Homo sapiens: one gene and its partner. The protein of the gene in region 2 interacts with the protein of the main gene of each other region in a biochemical or structural test. Each region holds a gene or a part of one and is shown on either strand. Other genes may lie near its edges.

Evidence for each region.
Region 1: the proteins of CYLD (region 2) and RNF166 form a complex in vitro, tested with the Homo sapiens proteins (one study listed by BioGRID).

Annotation. Positions count from the first base shown.
Region 1 is NC_000016.10:88,699,803-88,703,454, forward strand, and holds part of RNF166 (E3 ubiquitin-protein ligase RNF166), read right to left. Parts: exon of another isoform or gene 2,988-3,652; intron 1,617-2,987; coding exon 1,460-1,616; intron 1,149-1,459; exon of another isoform or gene 1,139-1,148; coding exon of another isoform or gene 818-1,138; exon of another isoform or gene 1-817. UniProt on the Homo sapiens protein: E3 ubiquitin-protein ligase that promotes the ubiquitination of different substrates. In turn, participates in different biological processes including interferon production or autophagy.
Region 2 is NC_000016.10:50,797,442-50,801,093, forward strand, and holds part of CYLD (ubiquitin carboxyl-terminal hydrolase CYLD), read left to right. Parts: 3' UTR 1-3,652. UniProt on the Homo sapiens protein: Deubiquitinase that specifically cleaves 'Lys-63'- and linear 'Met-1'-linked polyubiquitin chains and is involved in NF-kappa-B activation and TNF-alpha-induced necroptosis.

The DNA.
Region 1 (3,652 bases), about 38 Mb from region 2:
CTCAGGTGTCCAGGACCAGAGAACTGTAAGCAAGCGTCTGTGTTGCCAGCAGCAGGGGGACCCGGTCCCTTCTGCTGCTAAAACAATCTCAGGCACTGAGCAGCCACTACTCCATGGCCAAAAGCAAGTCACTGCAGGACAATCTGGCCGAGGGCAGAAACCTGGCTGGAGAAGGGTAGCGGGAAACAGGTAAGGAGATCTCTGGCGCCTGCAGGAGTTCAAATACTTGCTCCAGAAAAAGGAAGAGGCCAAGTGGAGGCCACTCAGAAATGCCCCAGGCTGGGGACAGACGCTTCGTGTGACTGAGGGGCAAGCTGGGGATGCTTCCGTGGAGGCAGGGCGCCATCCTCCACCCACAGCACACCCACTGTCCAGGGCAACAGGCTGCAAGATCGCAGGTGTCTGAGGCCCTCCTGGACTCAAGCTCGGCACCCAGCTCTGCCTAAGGGCTGCTGGACTCCGAGGGATGCACCACATTCCAGCAAGGTGCCGGGAGACACAGCCGCATCTGAAGACCCAGATTAGAGAACGGAGCTGCTGTGGGATACGGGAGGCCGCTCTGCATGTGACCGGTTCTGATCCTTTCTGGCTGCCCAGGAGAGAAGAACTCTGAGCAGGGAGAGACGGGAGGTGCCCAAGCACCCAAGACCACAGCCTGCTCAGCCGCACCACTCTGGAGTCCAGGGCAGCCCCTGGACATCTGGACCTTCGACCTCGAGGACAAACCACCGAGGGGCCACGTACTAGTGTGAGCGCTTCATAGAACTTATTCACCTGAGATGTGGCAACGTCGGGAAACGCAAATGCAAAATCACCTCTAGCTGCTCAGTCCTCCGGAAGCCACTGAAAGAACGGGGCGCTGGCTGGGGCCTCTCCACCCTGAAGCGGATGTGCCAGGGAGGGCCACGGGGCACGGGCCAGGCACCAGGACAGGATGGACATGGGGGCCAATGAGGCCCATGACAAGCTGCAGGCCCTTACGCTGCTCTGATGTGGGTGTGGCAGTGCCCATCAGCCCGGCTCTGGCCCTCCTGGCAGCTGGAGGGTGCTCGGCCCTTAGATGTCCTTGACTGTGCCCGCGGCCCTTGTGACCTTGGAGCCCCCAGCGCCGTCCCCGGTATCGGCTGGCAGGGGAAGGCTGCATTGGGAAGGTTTCAGCTCAGCCCCCTGGTCCTTACCCTGGCCACAACCCACGTGGGTTCCCCTGGCCCGGGCTAGGCGGCTCTGACAGTGCTACCCCCACCGGGCTGGCCCCCCCGTCAGCCGTCACCACAGGAAGTGAGAGATGAAGACGGGAGGGGAGGGAGGCGCCGGGGCTGGCTTCCTGGTGCAGGAGCAGAGACCGCGATTACTCAACAGGAAAGAGAGAGGGCCCCGGCCCCCACCCTCTGCAGAACCCGTGGGCTGAGGCTGCCCATCAAGTGACCCCGGCTCCAGGGCGGCCCAAGCAGGCGGGTACCTTTTTGTTGCAGCCTCGACAGGGCGCTTTGTAGGATGAGAGCTGCTTCTCCACGTGGGTGGCCTTGTCCACCTTCTTGGGGTCGAAGGGCAGGCGGCAGAGTGGGCACAGCGGGGATGGCACCTGCAGGCAGGGCTGGAGACACTCCCCGCAGAACCTGCAGGGCACAGGGGCCTGAGTGCCAGCCCGCCCCTCGGGTCTCCCGAACCGCAGGCCTTGCTCGGGGCCCTTCTTAGGACCCAGCATTTGTGGGGTCCACAGGGGCAGCTCCCCCTACCGCTGTCGCCGTCTCTGGAGATGGTCACTCCTATGTCCGGGGCCCACCAGCTGGATGGGCCCCATCTGGCTAAAGGGTGGCCCCGGTCCCTCCTGACAGTAGGCCCCTGTGGTTTCTGGCTAGCGGCAGAGCCGTCACTATGGCTGTCCCCGCGAGTGGGCCAGAGGAGCTCCCATAGGCAGGAGGCCCCAGCTCGGGCTACCAGGTTCACGTTCACGTGGCGACAACACCTGGGTGGGCTGTGGGGCGCAGGGACAGCCCGGGGACTCTGGAAACTCTCCCGGCTCCACACTCTGGGGGATAAAACCTCAAACAATCGTGGGAAAGGAAACGGCCAGGCCCCAGGGGCTCCAGATGCACTGGACAGGGAAGGGCCAAAGCTAGCCAAGTGGCAGCACATCCTGAGGCTGGGTGGCAGTCACCAGGCTTGGGACAGCTTCGCAGGCAGGAGGGGGTCCTGCTCCATCTGGGCGGAGGCTCGGGTCCTGGGCACCCATGGGCCCTGGCTCTTGGCACTGCCCCTGGGGACACCACATCGTGAGGACAGACTGAGCGTCCCACAGCCCCGTGCGCACTCCGGGCTCCAGCAGCAGGGGCTTCCTTGGGCTCGCACACCCTCCCGCTCTGCAGACGCACACAGCCCTTGGAGGGGTGCACCACCAGCCAGTGGGAGCACCAGGCGCGAGAGCCCCCAGTGCAAACACAGAGAAGGAGCTTAATACTGGGGCAGCCACATCTGGCCTTGTGAGGAGCACTGTGGGGACAGCTGAGCTGCGGCGAGGAGCTGGAACTGAGGCAGAGCCCCCCAGTCCCAGGAAGGCTACAGCACCCGGGGGTGTAGCTTCCCTTCTCCCTGGCAAGGCCACAGGGCTGGTACAGGAGCCCCACTGGACAGAGGGGCTGTGGGCAGGCCCTGGGTTCACAAACGACTCAGCTGAATTCAGGGCCAGAGTCCTCTTTGCTGTCAAGAGATTTCCACATCCCTCAAGAAAAGGCCCTTTCTGCAAGGAGGAAGTCTGAGGGCCTCAGGCAAAGGTGGCCAAGCAGGCATCTTAAGTCCCTCCTGCTGTCCCCCAGGCCCTCTTTGCCACCACTGGATTCCCACAGAGCCACCACCTGGCTGGTGGCTCCCACATGAAACTTCGTGTGAGAGAAAGCGGGACTCAGCTTGAGACCCGTCAGAAAGTGAACAAGCCTTTTTCTGCAGAGTAAAGAGGTCGCTCACTTTACCCACCTCACCCGAGTTCTCACCAGGCGCCCCAGCAGATATTTCCAGGGTCATCCCTGGCACTGACCCCTGGATTTGAGCCGGGGGGGCCGCCTACTTCACCCGTTCACGGGAGGAAGGTGCTGGCAAGATGGTCCACCTGGGGAGGCCTCAGGGGACCCCCATACTCAGGCACTCATGGCAGGAGAAGCGGAAGCAGCTCAGGTGCCCGTCGGTAAACGGATGAAGAGACGGCGTGGCGTGCACACCCATGGAAAGGGCGTTCGGCCGGGAAGAGGCGTGCAGCCCCACCACGCACCGGAAGGCCTGGAAAACAGTGCAGGGCAGACAGCAAGCACGTCCCACCCGTGTCGTGGGGGTCCACTCACGCTCAACGTCCAGCAGAGAGAAACCCAGTGACCAGAAAGCAGACGGGTGGGTGCCAGGCGAGGGGGAGAGTCCTGGGTTTCTTTCTGGAGTGGGAAGAATCTTCTAGAATTGCATCGATTGTTGCATAATTGCAAACACACTGGAAACGACTGGATGGTGCACCTCCTGAGTGAACCCTGAGCTGCCAGAGACCAGGCCGGGGCTCGGCTGCACAGCACGGCCACGGGCTGAGGGGAAGGAAAAGGGTCCCAGGCAGAGCTTGGGAAGAGAGGAAAGGTGCCCAGAAGGTTGGCTGGGAGGAAGACAGCCTCGTCCTCCC
Region 2 (3,652 bases):
AGTTTGATCTGTCAGCCAGTACTCCCATTAAATTCAGTGTAGTTTCACTTGATAGAATCAGATATGTTATCGAAATGTTAGCAGCAGCTTCATCCTCCTTCTGATTAAAGTAAGTAGAAATGGGATGTTTTGTTTAATAACAGCCATAGTGTGTGTTTAGACCACAGCGGATGTTGTAGACCAGGACCATAGATGATACATGTCAGTGCTGTGGAATGTGCATTCTCTGAGTGTTGTTTTGTGGTATCATTGTCTTTCCTGAATGACTTTCTAACTGTGCAGAAAGGCAGAAAAGTCATCATATGTATATGTCATATGACTTTATAAAATATTTAATGTGACAAAAAGTGGAAAGAATCTTTACAAACCCTGCAATTACTTTTTTAAAGGCACTTTTACTCTTTGGTTTTATCATTCCATTTTGCTAATATTTACTAGCTTTATAAATTACAGTAAGGTACAAAAACTCATCTTGTAATATTTTCATTTTTGAAGTGAAAAAGTACATATATTTTGCACAAGGTTTTATACTGCTAAGTGCTTGGTTGGGGTGGTGAGATGATGATTAGATCAGGGGTGAGGCTGAGAGACTCTGGGTTTAGGGCTAGCCCTGCCTCCATCTCCCTTGGGTAAAATGAAGGGTGTGGGGTAAAAGATGCATAAGGCCTTTTCTAGCTCTGACAGCCTAGAAGTCCAATCACCCTGTAATAAATATGTGTTGAATGAAGAAATGGGTGAATGAGCTTGTCAATGTGATTTTAAAAAATTGACTACCTGGAGGAATGATTAGGAATCTAAATGAAGCCAGCCCTCGGTATCTGCAGGTTTCTCATCCATGGATTCAACCAACTGCAAATGGAAAATACGATTTTTTTTAAAAAAAGGATGGTTACATCCGTATTGAACATGTACAGACTTTTTTCTTGTCATTATTCTCTGAACAATACAAGAACTCTTTATGTAGCATTTACATTTATTAGGTATTATAAGTAATCTAGAGATTATTTAATTAAAATATACAGGAGGATGTGTGTCAGTTATATGCAAATTCTGTACCATTTTGTATCAGGGAATTGAGCATCTTCAGATGTTGGTATCTGCAGGGATCCTGGAACCAAACCCCTGCAGATACTAAGGGCTGACGATCTAGGTAAGACTGGATTTAACAGTTGGAAAAAAAAAAAAAAAAGGAGAGAGAAGACAGTTCCTTTCCTGTAGAAATTAAAACAAAATACAAATTGAGGAAGCTCTGCTACCCAGGCTGTCATGGTAGAGAACTTGAAGAAGACCTGTTTGGATGGACACCTGGTTTCAAAAGTCAGGTGTGGAGACTGTTAAATGGGAGGGCCTCATCCATAAATGATTTCTGGCAACGTCTTCTTCAGGTGGAGCTTGACGTCTTTTTAATGTTACTTGGGGAGGGAGTGCTCATTAAGGGATGCCAGGGCCAGCTCTGGTGGTTCCTGGGGAGGCTGCGTCCTTCCCTGCTTCTGCATGTCATGAGGCAGCAGGAAGGTTTCCCCTGCACCTGTCTGTCCTGGCTCCCTCTGGGTAGCCCCCTACTGTTCTGTGCTTCAGCACAGCCTGGTTTGTCAAGAGGCACATAGTTGGGGCTGGGCTGCATGGCACAGGGGCTTATGTGCCTGCTGGTTATTTAATTTTCAGCCTTAAGTTTTCTTTAATATTTTCCTGTTGGCTATTTAAAGGTTTTGGTTATCTTTTATTCCTTATCTACAATCAAGATGACAATGTAATTGAATTATCTTATTTATAACACGGTTCGTGATTCATGATTCATGATTACAAGTAGAAAATATGTCATGTTCCTCACCTCCAAATAAATATGTGTGTGTCTGTGTGTGTGTATATATGTATGTGGCGGAGAGGGAGAGAGTGGGGAAGGAGAGCAGTGTTATCATACATAGAGAGGCTAAATGTGTCCCATCCCTCACTGTCAGCTTTATAAAGGAGTTTGACTCCATCCACAGAAGAATGTTTTATAAGACTAGGAAAACACGTTGAAAACTAGGATAAACAGCAACAAAAATCAACTAAATATGTTGTTACTGTTGCTAAGGATTTTCTCCTTAGAATAATTTAGGATTTTTAAAAATTTCTGTTTGCCAAATGCTGTAGATAAATGGCCAGATTCTTCCTATCCCTAGGATTCCTTTATTATTTTTTTTCACAGATTTTGAGAACAAGGGGGAGAGATAGTATGGAAGATTAAGATTCCATTAATCTTATAGAACTGTGTTGTCACCCAAATTCCTGCTTGTTTGAACATGGCATCTTCATAGATTCAGGATTCACTACCCTCTATAGCTGGATCTTGAAAATTATCTGGCCAGATAATTTTGCATCTGCTTGGATGATTGTAGACTGAGATGTGAGTGGAGGATAAAGTATTAGACTTTTGCTGAGTAACTGCCAACCAAGAAGTATTTATCGGACACTTACTAGGTGCCTAGGATTGTATCAGAGGGAATATGAAATGTGTCCCTGCCCTACCTAGTTTTAACGACAGAATATCTATTAAAGGCTACTTAGCTGAAGGGTAAGGGTGACAGGTCTAGGGGAAGCTTTGGGAGGTGGTGTGCTGTGACAGAAAAAGTGGCAGAGTAGGGACGAGAGACCTGCATTCTAGCCCTGTTTCTGTCACTTGCTCTGTACACTTAGACAACAGCTTGACCTCTTGAGCTTTAGTTTCCTCCTCTGCATAATGAGAGGGTTAGACTACTGAATTGTATGGGAAAAAAATACAAATTCCTGGGTCCTAGGCCATGCCTGCTGAATCCGACTGTTCAGGAAGAGGCCTAGGAAATCTGTGAGGGAATCCCCAGGGGAATCTCGTGACCAGCCAGGTGTGAAATCTGCTAACTGGAAGATCTCAAAGCTTCCTTCACTTTTTGTGATTTTGTGGTCATGTAACGTTACTGTATTATTCTACGTAAATGTGGGTACTTGGATGTTTATCATACTGTTTCTCTGTGTTTACATACTAATTTGTGTAAGAAATGCATTTTAGTCTGTGTACCTCAACCTGCTGTTTGTTTCCTAGAGGTGTTAGTAGTCTTTAAATACAAGTAAGACTTAAGAGGATATTTGATGTTATTTACCTGGATATTTTCTTCCCCTTTTATTTATTTAGAGGAAATTGAGATTCTAGGAGCCAAAAAAATGAAAACAAAATTCTAAGGCAAAGTTAAAGAAAAAAATTACATTATTTCTTACCATTTGCTACTTTATAATGAAAATTTAAAAATTATATGGGAAGATTTTTCTCTGGGATAACAAATCCTTGTCATAAAGTAAGAGGTCTTTTTAAAGTAGGTAGGCTATAAGGCCTGTAATTTAAAATAATACTCCTTTCTCTAGGGTTTGGTGCAATTCTCCATTAATGAAGATAACATTTGAATTCCCCAAAGCAGGTGAGGAGTCGGGGAGGAGAAAGCGATGTTAAAATGAAAACTCACTGCAAAAGAGGAGGCAGAGGAAGAAGGAATGTAAACCCCTTAAAGCAGATGTGTGTGGGGCCTTATGAAGACCAGGATTCTGCGGGTGTCAGGGGATTGCCCCTCTTGACAGAGACTAGGGTTTTAGACTGAGGCTTCCTGCAGGGTGTTCGCATTGCCCTTCTCCGTTCCCCTTC